3 separate regions of the Homo sapiens genome follow, and all the other regions are reported to be linked to region 1. Evidence: microRNA targets listed by miRTarBase, many of them from high-throughput screens and not tested one by one. Region 1 holds a microRNA gene; each other region holds the end of a gene's coding sequence.
Evidence for each region. The annotated mature microRNA hsa-miR-548k reads AAAAGUACUUGCGGAUUUUGCU and lies in region 1 at 1,502-1,523, shown strand. An mRNA with a match to its seed (bases 2 to 7 or 8) in the 3' UTR can be bound and repressed. Matches are read on the target gene's strand: a 7mer-m8 pairs with bases 2 to 8, a 7mer-A1 pairs with bases 2 to 7 and ends in A, and an 8mer does both.

Region 2: the mRNA of TRIM74 is a reported target of hsa-miR-548k. Seed matches in the 3' UTR shown: 7mer-m8 at 732-738.
Region 3: the mRNA of KLRC3 is a reported target of hsa-miR-548k. The part of its 3' UTR that is shown has no 7-base or 8-base seed match.

The regions. Positions count from the first base shown.
Region 1 is chr11:70,282,485-70,286,548 of GRCh38, forward strand. It overlaps MIR548K (microRNA 548k), which reads left to right and starts at 1,471; the gene lies at 1,471-1,586. All of the region lies in intron 2 of PPFIA1 (PPFI scaffold protein A1), which reads left to right.
Region 2 is chr7:72,956,283-72,960,333 of GRCh38, reverse strand. TRIM74 (tripartite motif containing 74) reads left to right here. Exons shown (of 5, transcript NM_198853.3): 4 at 83-313; 5 at 426-849. The coding sequence ends at 452. LOC124901671 (a long non-coding RNA gene) reads right to left here. Exons shown (of 2, transcript XR_007060381.1): 2 at 2,956-4,051. Among named protein-coding and RNA genes, the nearest start is that of TRIM74, 11 kb to the left of the region's middle.
Region 3 is chr12:10,409,162-10,413,212 of GRCh38, forward strand. KLRC3 (killer cell lectin like receptor C3) reads right to left here. Exons shown (of 7, transcript NM_002261.3): 7 at 3,154-3,455. The coding sequence ends at 3,411. It overlaps KLRC4-KLRK1 (KLRC4-KLRK1 readthrough), which reads right to left and starts at 985. Exons shown (of 13, transcript NM_001199805.1): 1 at 938-985. KLRC4 (killer cell lectin like receptor C4) reads right to left here and starts at 596. Exons shown (of 4, transcript NM_013431.2): 1 at 228-596. The coding sequence starts at 414.

The sequences.
Region 1 (4,064 bases):
TTGATCCCATGTATGTTTCCTTTTTGAGTGCTGATTTTTTTTTTTTTTTTTTTTTTTTTTTTGAGATGGAGTCTTGCTCTGTCACCCAGGCTGGAGTGCAGTGGCGTGATCTCGGCTCACTGCAAGCTCCACCCCCTGGGTTCACACCATTCTTCTGCCTCAGCCTCCCCAGTAGCTGGGACTACAGGTGCCCGCCACTACATCCAGCTAGTTTTTGTTTTGTATTTTTAGTAGAGACAGGGTTTCACCATGTTAGCCAGAATGGTCGCGATCTCCTGACCTCATGATCCACTGCATGCCTTGGCCTCCCAAAGTGCTGGGATTACAGGCGTGAGCCACCGTGCCTGGCTTTTTTTTTTTTTTTTTTTTTTTAAGAAGGAATTTTGCTCTTGTCGCCCAGGCTGGAGTGCAATGGTGCGATCTCAGCTCACTGCAACCTCCATGTCCCAGGTTCAAGCGATTCTCTTGCCTCAGCCTCCTGAGTAGCTGGGACCATAGGCGTGCATCACCATGCCCGGCTGATTTTTGTATTTTTAGTAGAGACGGGGTTTCACCATGTTGGTCAGGCTAGTCTTGAACTTCTGACCTCAGGTGATCTGCCCGCCTCAGCCTCCCACAGTGCTGGGATTACAGGCATGAGCCATCATGCCTGACCGACTGACCGAGTGCTTTTTTTTTTTTTTAAAGCAAATATTGCCTTTGGGCTTCTCTCTAATTTCATTTTAAAGTTTCAGTTGCATTTTCAAATGGAGATTTTATTTTAAACTGGAGTGCAGTGATTTTTACAGTCTTTTTGAAAGCAACAAATGAGATTTTTAGAAGACCTCTTGCTTGAAGAACTCTTTTGTGTGAAACCTAGAAGAGAGACTGTTCACCTTTCATTGCAGGTGAGGTCCCAAATTTTGCCAGTCTCTCTCCCAATCTGCCAATCCCTGAAGCAGGGGGTACAAAACTCAGAAGATTCTAAGGAATGAGGTCTTCAAATCAAATCCAAACTTAGTGAAAAAGAAGTCTACCTGTGTCAGGGGTGTTCCCTGTCAAAGTGATGGGTGAGCTTCAGCTGGTTGCAGTGGAAGGTGTGCTGGATGGATTGAGGAGGCGAGAGGGTGCAAGACAGCCCATTTAGGAGGCAGTTCCTGCAATGTGGGCATGAAGTGTTACAGCCCAAACTAGGATGCTAGAATCCGAGGGCAGAGGGCAGTAGAAAAGAACAACCTGGCGGAATTGTGTAGGACTAGAGGATGACAGCCGAGTGGCAGATACCAGGGTCAAGCTTGCGGGGAGAAGGGGGACGGGGGTGGGGGAGAGTAAAGAGGAGACGCTGGTGTTTGGTGGTGTTGAGAGGTATTTGTGGTTGTCACAGCTAGGGCAGGGATGCTCCTAAACATTCTGCAGTGGAGCCCCCTCAACAAAGAATTATCTGGCCCCAAATGTTGGAAGTGTCCAGGTTTAGGTATAAAGAATCAGAAGCTTTTCTCAAGTATTGCTGTTAGGTTGGTGCAAAAGTACTTGCGGATTTTGCTTTACTTTTAATGGCAAAAACCGCAATTATTTTTGCTTCAACCTAATATGATGCAAAATTGGCTACAACTGTAATTTGTTGAGTGCTGCAAACAAGGTACTTGCTAAGCTTAACTTTAGTGAACAAATTAGGAAGAATTGGAATAAGGTAAAACTAGCTAAATGACTCTTCCCTGAGAATAAATACTAATGACTGCCCCTTCAGATGGTGCCCCCTCATCTGCTTTACTGACTGTTTCTTAGTAGTAGTTGGCAAAACACCTCTTAAAATACCATACTTGTTTTCATCGTCTTTGGTGTATGAAATAGTTGAATATATCCTTTCAGAATAATATTTGGCCATTTACATCTCTCTTTTGCACACACTGAATTTGCCATCTTGTCTTCCTGTTCCTACACCTTTAATTGTCAGCAAGGAGACAGAGTCCTTCCTCCTATTTTGTTGAGCCCTGTGTGAATATTACCGTTCTAGGCTCCTGCAGTCAGTGGTAGAGACAGGGTCTCTGCCTGCAGAAGACTTTCACAATATACCCATGCTCAAAGCAGGTGCAGGTTGCGAGACACATCCAGATAGAATGAAGTGGTTCAGAAGAAATCCATGATCTCGACTGAGTGGGGTGGGCTGCCAGGCACACTGTGGTCCAGAAAGGTGAGGCTTTCGAGGGGATTGGCTTAGAGCTGAGGGATGAAGGCTAAGAGGAACCAGGTATGAGAGCTTTCTTGGCGGTGGGGCTACTTGAGCAAAGGCCAGAGCAAGGGAGAGCTTAGCATTTAGCTGAGTCAAAGCTGGGGTCTGTGGCCATGGTTACTTGGCCTGGAGGGAAGGGAAGAGTGAACATGGTAAGGTTGGCTAGGTAGGTTGGGATGGGATCAGACAGAGGTGAAGACTTGCTTGTTTTTGTTTTAAGTACCTTAGGGCTTCAGTACTTTGCGTGCATCGTGGCCTCAGGGGAGGGAATGATGTGATTTAGCTGCGTTGTTATTTATTTATTTTTATTTATTTATGTATTTCTTTATTTAAGATGGAGTCTTACACTGTTGCCCAAGCTGTAGTGCACTGGCATGATCTCGGCTCACTGCAACCTCTGCCTCACAGGTTCAAGCGATTCTCCTGCCTCAGCCTCCCAAGTAGCTGGGATTACAGGCGCCCGCCACCGTGCCCGGCTAATCTTTAGTAGAGACGGGAGTTTCACCACGTTGCCCAGGCTGGTCTTGAACTCCTGACCTCAGGTGATCCTCCCTCCTTGGCCTCCCAAGTTTTTAAAAGATCATGCTATGTGGATAATGAGCTGGGGATGGAGGGAAGAATGGACCTAGGGTGGAAACCACTGGTTAGAGTAGAGCCACTTCAAGTGCATGGGTTTGGGCTATAAAGTTAGTGCTGTGAGCAAAAATTAAAAACTCTTGCCGGGTGCGGTGGCTCATGCCTGTAATGGGAGGCCGAGATGGGCAGATCACGAGGTCAGGAGTTCGAGACCAGCCTGGCCAACATGGTGAAACCCTGTCTCTACTAAAAATACAAAAATTAGCTGGGCGTGGTGGTGCGCAGCTGTAATCCCAGCTACTCGGGAGTCTGAGGCAGGAGAATCGCTTGAACCTGGGAGGTGGAGGTTGCAATGAGCTGTGATCGCACCACTGCACTCCAGCCTGGGGGACAGAGTGAGACTCTGTCTCAAAAAAAAAAAAAAAACCTCTTAACATCACCCATCACATAAGGCACAGAACAATGTGTACTTTTTAATTATCATATACATAAATGCATACTGTTTTCATGCAGTATACATAATGTTTATGTATATAGTGTATACATGAATGTATTCAGGTATTTTGAGTGTCTGTATGTGGCATGCACCGTTCTAGGTGCTGAATATTCCATAGGTAAAAAGGGTTATTTAGCCCACATTTTTTTCGTTGTATGAAGAGAAATGGAAAAAACCAAACTTACATAGTTCGGTTTGAGCAAGTTAAATGCATGGATGATGTAATGTGGGAGCACTTTCCACTTTTCGTTGATGTTTGTGTAGGCAGAACTAGGGAGGTGGTTTTCCTTGGGAGTTTCAGCTGCCCACTGTACTCCTCCACTCTTGGCCACTGTGCCTCGCAGGTGCCTTACCTGACTGCCATGCTGTGTACTTTCATTTGGGCAGGCTTTGGGCTCCTTAAATTCAATATTGGCTCAAACCATCTTTCCCCCGCATCCGTACCCCATCCTGTGAACGGTAGTTTTCTACGTAGTCAGGTGGCTATGTCTCTTCTTTTCTTTTGAGATGGAGTCTCGTCCTGTTGCCCAGGCTGGAGTACAAGGGCACAATCTCAGCTCGCTGCAATCTCTGCCTCCCGGGTTCAAGCGATTCTCCTCCCTCAGCGTCCCAAGTAGCTGGGACTACAGGCACATGCCACCGCGCCCTGCTAATTTTTGTATTTTTGTAGAGACGGGGTTTCACCATGTTGGCCAGGCTGGTCTTGAACTCCTGACCTCTGATGATCTGCCCTTCTTGGCCTCCCAAAGTGCTGGGATTACAGGCGTGAGCCACTGCTCCCGG
Region 2 (4,051 bases), not on the chromosome of region 1:
GGCCCTGGGGACACCGAGGCCAGCCAGACAGAGCCTGGCAGCTCGGCTGTGACTCTGCAGTGAGCAGCCCTCCCTGTCCCAGAATGAGTCGGATGTCTTCAGCTGGGTGATCCGCCGCGAGTTCCAGGAGCTGCGCCACCCGGTGGACGAGGAGAAGGCCCGCTGCCTGGAGGGGATAGGGGGTCACACCCGTGGCCTGGTGGCCTCCCTGGACATGCAGCTGGAGCAGGCCCAGGGAACCCGGGAGCGGCTGGCCCAAGCCGAGTGTGTGCTGGAACAGTTCGGAAATGAGGACCACCATGAGTTCATCTGGGTGAGTGGACAGGGAGGCGTCCCATCCCCATACCCGCCAGGGCCTTCCCCTTCCCAACAGTGCCCTGGCTTCCCACCTTCTAGCCTTAACCTCCCTCTCTCTTGCCTTCCAGAAGTTCCACTCCATGGCCTCCAGGTAATAACCTTGGAGAGAGCTCAGCCAGGGTCTGGTGGCTGCGGGCACGGGCATCTCAGCTCCACTGGTTCCTCCATTCAGCTTAACCAGCGCCTCCCAAGCAGCTGCCTATAGCTGGCTCTATAACTGAGCCTGGGGAAGATAGAGGAAAGTCACGTCCCTGCCTTCAAGGGTCTCGCAGACAGGTGGGGAGGCAGATGGTGAACTGTGGGTACCTAGAACAGCAGAAGTTCACTCAAGCTACAGAAATACTAGAGGAGGGTAGCTCATGCCTGCAATCCCAGTACTTTGGGAGGCCAAGGCAGGAGTATTGCTGGAGGCCGGGAGTTCGAGACCAGCCTGGCCAATGTAGTAACACCCCCGTCTCTACAAAAAATACAAAAATAAAAAAATTAGTTGGGCATGGTGGCATGCGCCTATAGTCCCTGCTACTCATAAGGCTGAGGTGGGAGGATTGCTTGAGCCCAAAGTTTGATGCTGCAGTGAGTCATGATCATGCTACTGCATGATCCAGCCTGGGTGACAGAGCGAGACCCTGTCTCAGAAAACAAAACACTAGAGGAGGAGCAGGTGTCTGGGAGGCCTGGCAGAGGGGCACACGCCTGATGGCTGAGAAGGGCCCAGGACCCGAGTTTGCCAGGCAAGCCGAGGGAACAGTCCTGTAAAAGGGGGAGTGGCGTGCGGACTCTGGTTATGAGAAGTTCAGGGTGGCTGGATGTAAGGCAGGATATCAGGAGGAGTGGGAGCTGGGAGAGGTGGGAAATGGCCAGAAGCAACATCCAGGAGCACCAGGCATCCCTTGCTTACCGTCCTCACCCTTGCGCAGCAGGCAGTATCAGCCCTGCCTGAAACTTGCTCTGCAGATTGTGGGAAGAGAGCGGATCCATGTTCTAGACCCAACAAACGAACACGTGCAGTTCCCAAGCCTTCCTCACTCCCTGTTTATGGGAGACTCCTTGTTTCTCACATTTCTTTTAGTCTTAGAGACAATTTGGTCAGGAGACATGGGTTTAAATGAAGGCACAGAGCCTGGGCACAGCAGCTTACACCTGTAATCCCAGCACTTTGGAAGGCCAAGGCAGAAGGATGACTTGAGGTCAGGAGATCAAGACCAGCCTGGCCAACATGGTGAAACCCTGTCTCTATGAAAAATACAAAAATTAGCTGGGTGTGGTGGCACATACCTGTAATCCCAGCTACTCGGGAGGCTGAGGCACAAGAATCTCTTGAACCTGGGAGGTGGAGGTTGCAGTGAGCTGAGATTGCTCCACTGCACTCCAGCCTGGGTGACAGAGCAAGACTCCATCTCAAAAAAAAAAGAAAAGAAAACAAGAAAAAAAAAAGTCCGGGCATGGTGGCTCATGCCTATAATCCCAGCACTTTATGCTCAAGTCTGCTTTTTTTTTTTTTTTTTTTGAGATGGAGTCTCGCTCTGTCACCCAGGCTGGAGTGCAGTGGCACGATCTCAGCTCACTGCAACCTACACCTCTCAGGTTCAAGTGATCTCCTGCCTCAGCCTCCCGAGTAGCTGGGATTACAGGTGTGCACCCCATGCTCAGCTAATTTTTTTATTTTTAATATAGATGGGGTTTTGCCATGTTGACCATGCTGGTCTCGAACTCCTGACCTCAAATGATTCGCCTGCCTCGGCCTCCCAAAGTGCTGGGATTACAGGCGTGAGCCACCGTGCCCAGCCTTGAGTCTTTATTTTTAGAGACAGGATCTTGCTCTGTCACCCAGGCTGGAGCGCAGTGGTGCAACTGTAGCTCACTGCAGCCTTGACCTCCCAGGCTCAAGTGATCCTCCTGCCTCAGCCTCCTGAGTAGCTGGGACGACAAGTGTCTGCTACCATACCCAGCTAATATTTAAATTTTTAGTAGAGATGGGATCTTGCTATGTTACCCAGGCTGGTCTGGGCCTCAAGCAATCCTCCCACCTTGGCCTCCCAAAGTGTTGGGATTATAGGTGTGAGCCACTGTGCTTAGCCTCCCATAACCCTTTGATTCACGATACTCATAGGCTAAGTGGGTCCTGGAAGCTCCGGGGTAGCCTTCTAACCAAGATGCTGGCTCGGGCCACTGGAAGTCAAACTGGGTGCACAGACCAGTGAGAGGGCATGAGGGAGCCTAGCAGGGGTGAACAGCAACCCTCAGCCTCCCCACAGCCCTGCCTCTCCTCCTGCCTCTCCTCGGTCTCCTTTGAGGATTCAGCCTCTCGTCCTCACCACTTATGGTCTGAGGGCCTCCAGGCTCCTCTTCTGGCTGTCTACCCCTCCACACCCATAGCTCCAGTCATCACTTCCACAGGGATGACTCAGAAGTTCCCTCTCCGGGAGACCCGTCCCTTACAGGCCACATCCAGTAGCGCTCCAGCCATTCAGCAGCTCCGCCTGGACGTCAAGGGCATGTCCAAAACCGCGCTCATGATCTTCCTACTCCCCCATCCCTGAGATTTATCCTGTGGCTGTGGTGTCCTGTGGCTACTGTAACAAATGACCACAAACTTGGTGGCTTCAAACAAATTTAATCTCTCATGGTTCTGAAGGCCAGATGTCCAAGATCACGATGATGGCAAGGCCGCGCTCCCTCTGGAGACTGTCGGGGAAAACCTGCCCCTTTCCTCTTCAGCTTCAGGTGGTGGCTGCCATGCCCTGGTGTTTCCTGGCCTGTGACCGCATCATTCCAATCTCTGCCTCCATCTTCACGTGGCCTTTTCTGTATGTGCCGGTCTAATCTTCCTCTGCTTCTCTCTTATTTTTTGTTTTTTGAGACAGAGTCTCACTCTGTTGCCCAGGCTGGAGTGCAGTGGTGTGATCTCGGCTCACTGCAACCGCCACTTCCCAGGTTCAAGCAATTCCCTTAACTTAGCCCCCTGAGTAGCTGGGATTACAGGCGTGCACTCAGCAAATTTTTGTATTTTTAGTAGAGACGTGGTTTCACCATGTTGGCTAGGCTGGTTGTGAACTCCTGGGCTCAAGGGATCCACCAGCCTCAGTCTCCCAAAGTGCTGGGATTACAGGTGTGACCCACTGCGCTTCTCCCTATAAGAGAGGCCTTCCTCTGCCTCTCTCTTATAGGGATACTTGTGATGCCATGCAGGACCTGCCCAGATAATCCAGGATAACCTTCTCTCCAAATCCTTCCCCTGATCACTCCTACAGATCTCTTCCATAGAAGGTGACATTTCCAGGCTCTAGGAATTAGGACCTGCTCTCTCTGGGTGGCCGTTGTTCACTCCACCACCCCAGGTTTCCCCATCCTACCAAAAGACACAGCAGCATTGTGTCAACTGCCCAAACTGAAAACCTATGAGTTATTCTCGACCTGTCCTTTTTCCTGAGCAAGTTCTGTGGATTTAACTTAGCGGTCACACTGCCAACTTCAACCGAACTCCACTGCCACCAACTCAGTCCAGGCCACCAGTTCTTGTTTAGGTGACTGCCATGACCCCCATTGGTCTCTCCCTGCCTCAACTCTGTCCCCTCCATCCTATATCCCCACACTGTAACCAGACTGATTATTTATTTATTTATTTATTTTTTGGGGAAAGAAGCTTGCTCTATCCCCCAGGCTGGAGTGCGGTGGCACAATCTCAGCTTACTGC
Region 3 (4,051 bases), not on the chromosome of region 1:
ACCATTTCATTATCAGTAAATATAATGCTCCATGAGTTGTTAATCACAAATTACAATTGAACAATGCCTGAATAAAATCAGGCTTCAGATTTCATATTAGAATATTAGATCCTGACTTTGACCTCTGATTCTCACAAGTGCAAAATATTCCCTAATCTTTCCCCACCTTTCTGCATTCAACTGCACATCCTAGAACAATAATATTGAAGATCTATTTAATGTTTTACCTTTGCAGTGATATGTCTTGTCATTCCCTTGATGATCCGAAGAAGCATTTTGAAGGTTTAATTCTACTTGGAATATTTCCTGTTTGGTTCCTGAAATGGAGATTTTATTGCCCTTAAGTTTCCTTTGCTGCCTCTTTGGGTCCTGGGCCAGACTCACTTCTGAGTAGGTTCCTCTTTGTTTATTCATCTCTGCAGCTGTGTGATGTCAGGGACTGTGCTCTATGATAACTGCACTTAAGAAGCTATAAGTGGTGTATATTTTGACAGGATCCCTGGTATAGGCAAACTGCATGTGTTGGAGGCTGAGTAGTAATGTTCATTTTGCTGTTGACCAATATAAAAGTCTGGTACTAATTTCCTAAAGTTTTAAACTGAAATCTCTTTAAACAATAGGTCACTTTTTAAAAGGCCTTCTATATTTGACATAATATTATTAATGGGAACAATAAAAAACAATACATTTGTGAAAACTAAGAAGTAACTGAATATAAATATCTTTATTAATTTAAAATCAGATTCTACAGAAATATTTTATCACCAATAGAATACCTGTGTAAAAAACTAAAATTGAAATTTGAAAATAAAATGCACTAATTGTATGACAATTTTAAAATTCATTAATGTAAGGATTGAGCGCTAAAGATGGAGGAATAATTTGTTGGCATATAGAACAACTTTTAATACTAAAATACATTAAGTTAGTGACTTACATTCGTTTACTAAAAGGGCATGAGGTCTTGGCAAATGTTTTTTATTCTGAATGATTGAGGAAAACAGAAAAATTGTTAAAATTTTAAAGAAATATTTTATACCTTGTAAAACATTACATTAACTTATGCATAAACTAAATACTACTGAAAAAGATTTAACTCTTTATTTTACAGAATTGATTGGTAATTGATTTAATGACTAAAATAGGAAAACTGAAAATGATAAATATAAGTTTGGACCATCTATGAAAGAACACTTTAAGTTCAAACTTTCAGAAAGACCCTGTGGTTGTTTTAAAAGGCAGCGAGGGTCACTTTGGTTGTGTAAGTAATTGTAATAAATCAGAAAATATAATTTAATAATCTAGTCAATGAGCTCTGTAGCCAGTGAGACCTAAAATTAATTACAGCTTTGAAACTCATAATGCATGACCTTTACAAAGTTACTTGGTGTCTACAACACCAGTTTACTAATCTAGATTGGGGAAAATAATTTATGAAGTATAATGTATATAAAACCCTTAACATACAACCTGGCACACATTAGTCCTCAATACATATTAGATATTTTAATTATTTTTAACACAATTGCCATTTTATTATTTCTAATTCATACTGAGTGTGTAAAATAACTAATGAGGTAGGAGTCTCATGTCAGTGTAGTACATCTTTTTTGCAATGTTTGTTTGGCTCAATTTTTTTTAGGTCGTCCTATTATTTATAATTAAGTTTAGATTTGCATTTTATGGAAACTACTTCATTATTACATTCTTAAAAAAATAAAATCTGCTTCAATTAAATATAAGTATGTGTATGAGAAATTATGTTTGACATTCACAATTTGATGTATCCATTAAAAATGCATTTTTAAAGTCTGGGCTAAATATAAAGTATTATTACATCTATAATGATTATAAAATTTCAAATTAATTCTTCATTGTCGTGATATTTATCGGTTTCACTCTAAATTATATTGATTAACAAACCTATTATGATGTATGCATGTGCTTGACTAATTCTCCACAGGCAATAATGTAAATACTTTAAGAAATCCTCAAACATATATTATATTTTGGGTTGCTTTTCACCCTGAATTATTCATGTACAGACAGTTCTACTTTGATTTTATTCTGTATTAACTTTACCTTGTTGCATCACATTTAATATTTACAATTTTCTACTAAAGGAGATGAGCTAGTAGAGAAACAGGAGACTAGCAACACATACCTTCTGTCATCAGAAAGTCACACGCCCCTTAGTGGAGAGGTCAGGTTACCTCTTAACGACACAAAAGACATCTGTGATCCGGTGAAACCCCGTCTCTACTAAAAATACAAAAACTTAGCCGGGTGTGGTGGCGGGCGCCTGTAGCTGCTTGGGAGGCTGAGGCAGGAGAACGGTTGAACCCGGGAGGCGTAGCTTGCAGTGAGCTGAGATCGGGAGCCACTGCACTCCAGCCTGGGCGACAGAGCGAGACTCTGTCTCAGAAAAAAACAAAAAACAAAAAACAGATATCTCTGATCTTCACAGACTGCCCTGTGAAAGCTCAGAGTGAGGCAAGAGTGCAAAAAGCAGATTCCTCATCAATGTATCACTTCGGATTTGAACAGGAAGTTTTCACACTAGGGCCATTTTGAATCAGTTTATCTCATCATACACCTCAGAATATAAGAGACTGAGCTGCTAGGGTGTCATTTAGTTTGTCCATTTTCAAGTGACTTTTAGAAATTATTTTTATAGTAAACAAGATTTGGGGAGAACAAAGACTACTACCCATGCAGTTGTTTCCATCTCAATCACAAACACTAAAATCTTATACCTTTTTCAGAGTCTCTTACATGTTTAACTTCTACATTTACACAGGGTGGCTAAAACTTGGGATTACGTACTTCTTTATCATATACCCCTATAATATCACTGCTAATATGACGATAAATTTTTAAAATAATAATCTTACCAATAGGAATTTAATGTATTTGTCACTAATTATTCTGAGAAAATACATTTCCACTTCATTGTAATTGACATCAATTCTCAAAGTTAAATTCCCAACTTACTTTCTTGATAGTTCTTAAAATTCTCTCATTCAGTTTTTTAAAAATAAATTAATCAGATAACTCTCATTGAAATATATGTCTCTGGGAAGAATAAATAATTAAAAAATATTGTACTATATCACCACGCCAGAGATTGAAATATATAAAAACCACTCATTATATTGTTCATTGATTTATTTTCCAATCATAACGGTCTGCATTTTAATATTAATATTTGTTGTAAATGACTAATGCTTAAATCAAACTATATAGAGAGGGAAAAGTAATTTTTAAAACATCATCTAGTTAAAAATAGGGAGGGCAGAAAAAGTAGATTTTTAAAACACAAGCTAAATGGTACATGAGCACTCAGGGGCGGTGGCTTGTGTCAGTAATCCCAGCAACTTGGGAGGCCAAGATGTGTTGATTTCTTGAGCTCAGGAGTTCAAGACCAGCCTGGTCAACATGATGAAACCCCGTCTCTACAAAAAAATACGAAAATTAGCCAGCATGATGGTATTGGCCTGTAGCCAGCTACTCTGGTTGCTGAGGTGGGAGGATCGCTTGAGCCTTGGAGGTGAGGTCGAGGCTGCAGTGAGCCGAGATGAAATTTACTGAAATTGGGGAAATATACTTCATAATGATAAATTAATTTTCCAAACCATTAGTAATATATTTTTTATCATTGCATATACCTAATGATACAAGTTCAACATATAGTTGAATAAAGTGAACAAGTAAACAATCATAAATGGGATTTTTAAAGACTCTTCTCTTGATGCTTAATACAAGACAGGCCAGTGAGCCTATAGAAAGATTTAAACTAGACAAGTAACCATCACTCATATGAATGCATTCACACACATATACTCACACGGATACTCAATTTCAATGTAGTACCGCTAGCCAAGCTTGGCTAGGAGACAGTTGAAATGTAGCTATTCAAATTTAACATTAATTAATAAAAATAAATAACATTTAAAACCAGTACCTCACCACATGAGCCACATTTATAAAGGGATGAAGAACATTTCCAGTTTAATAGAAAATGTTCTAACTATATTTTACCTACAACAGA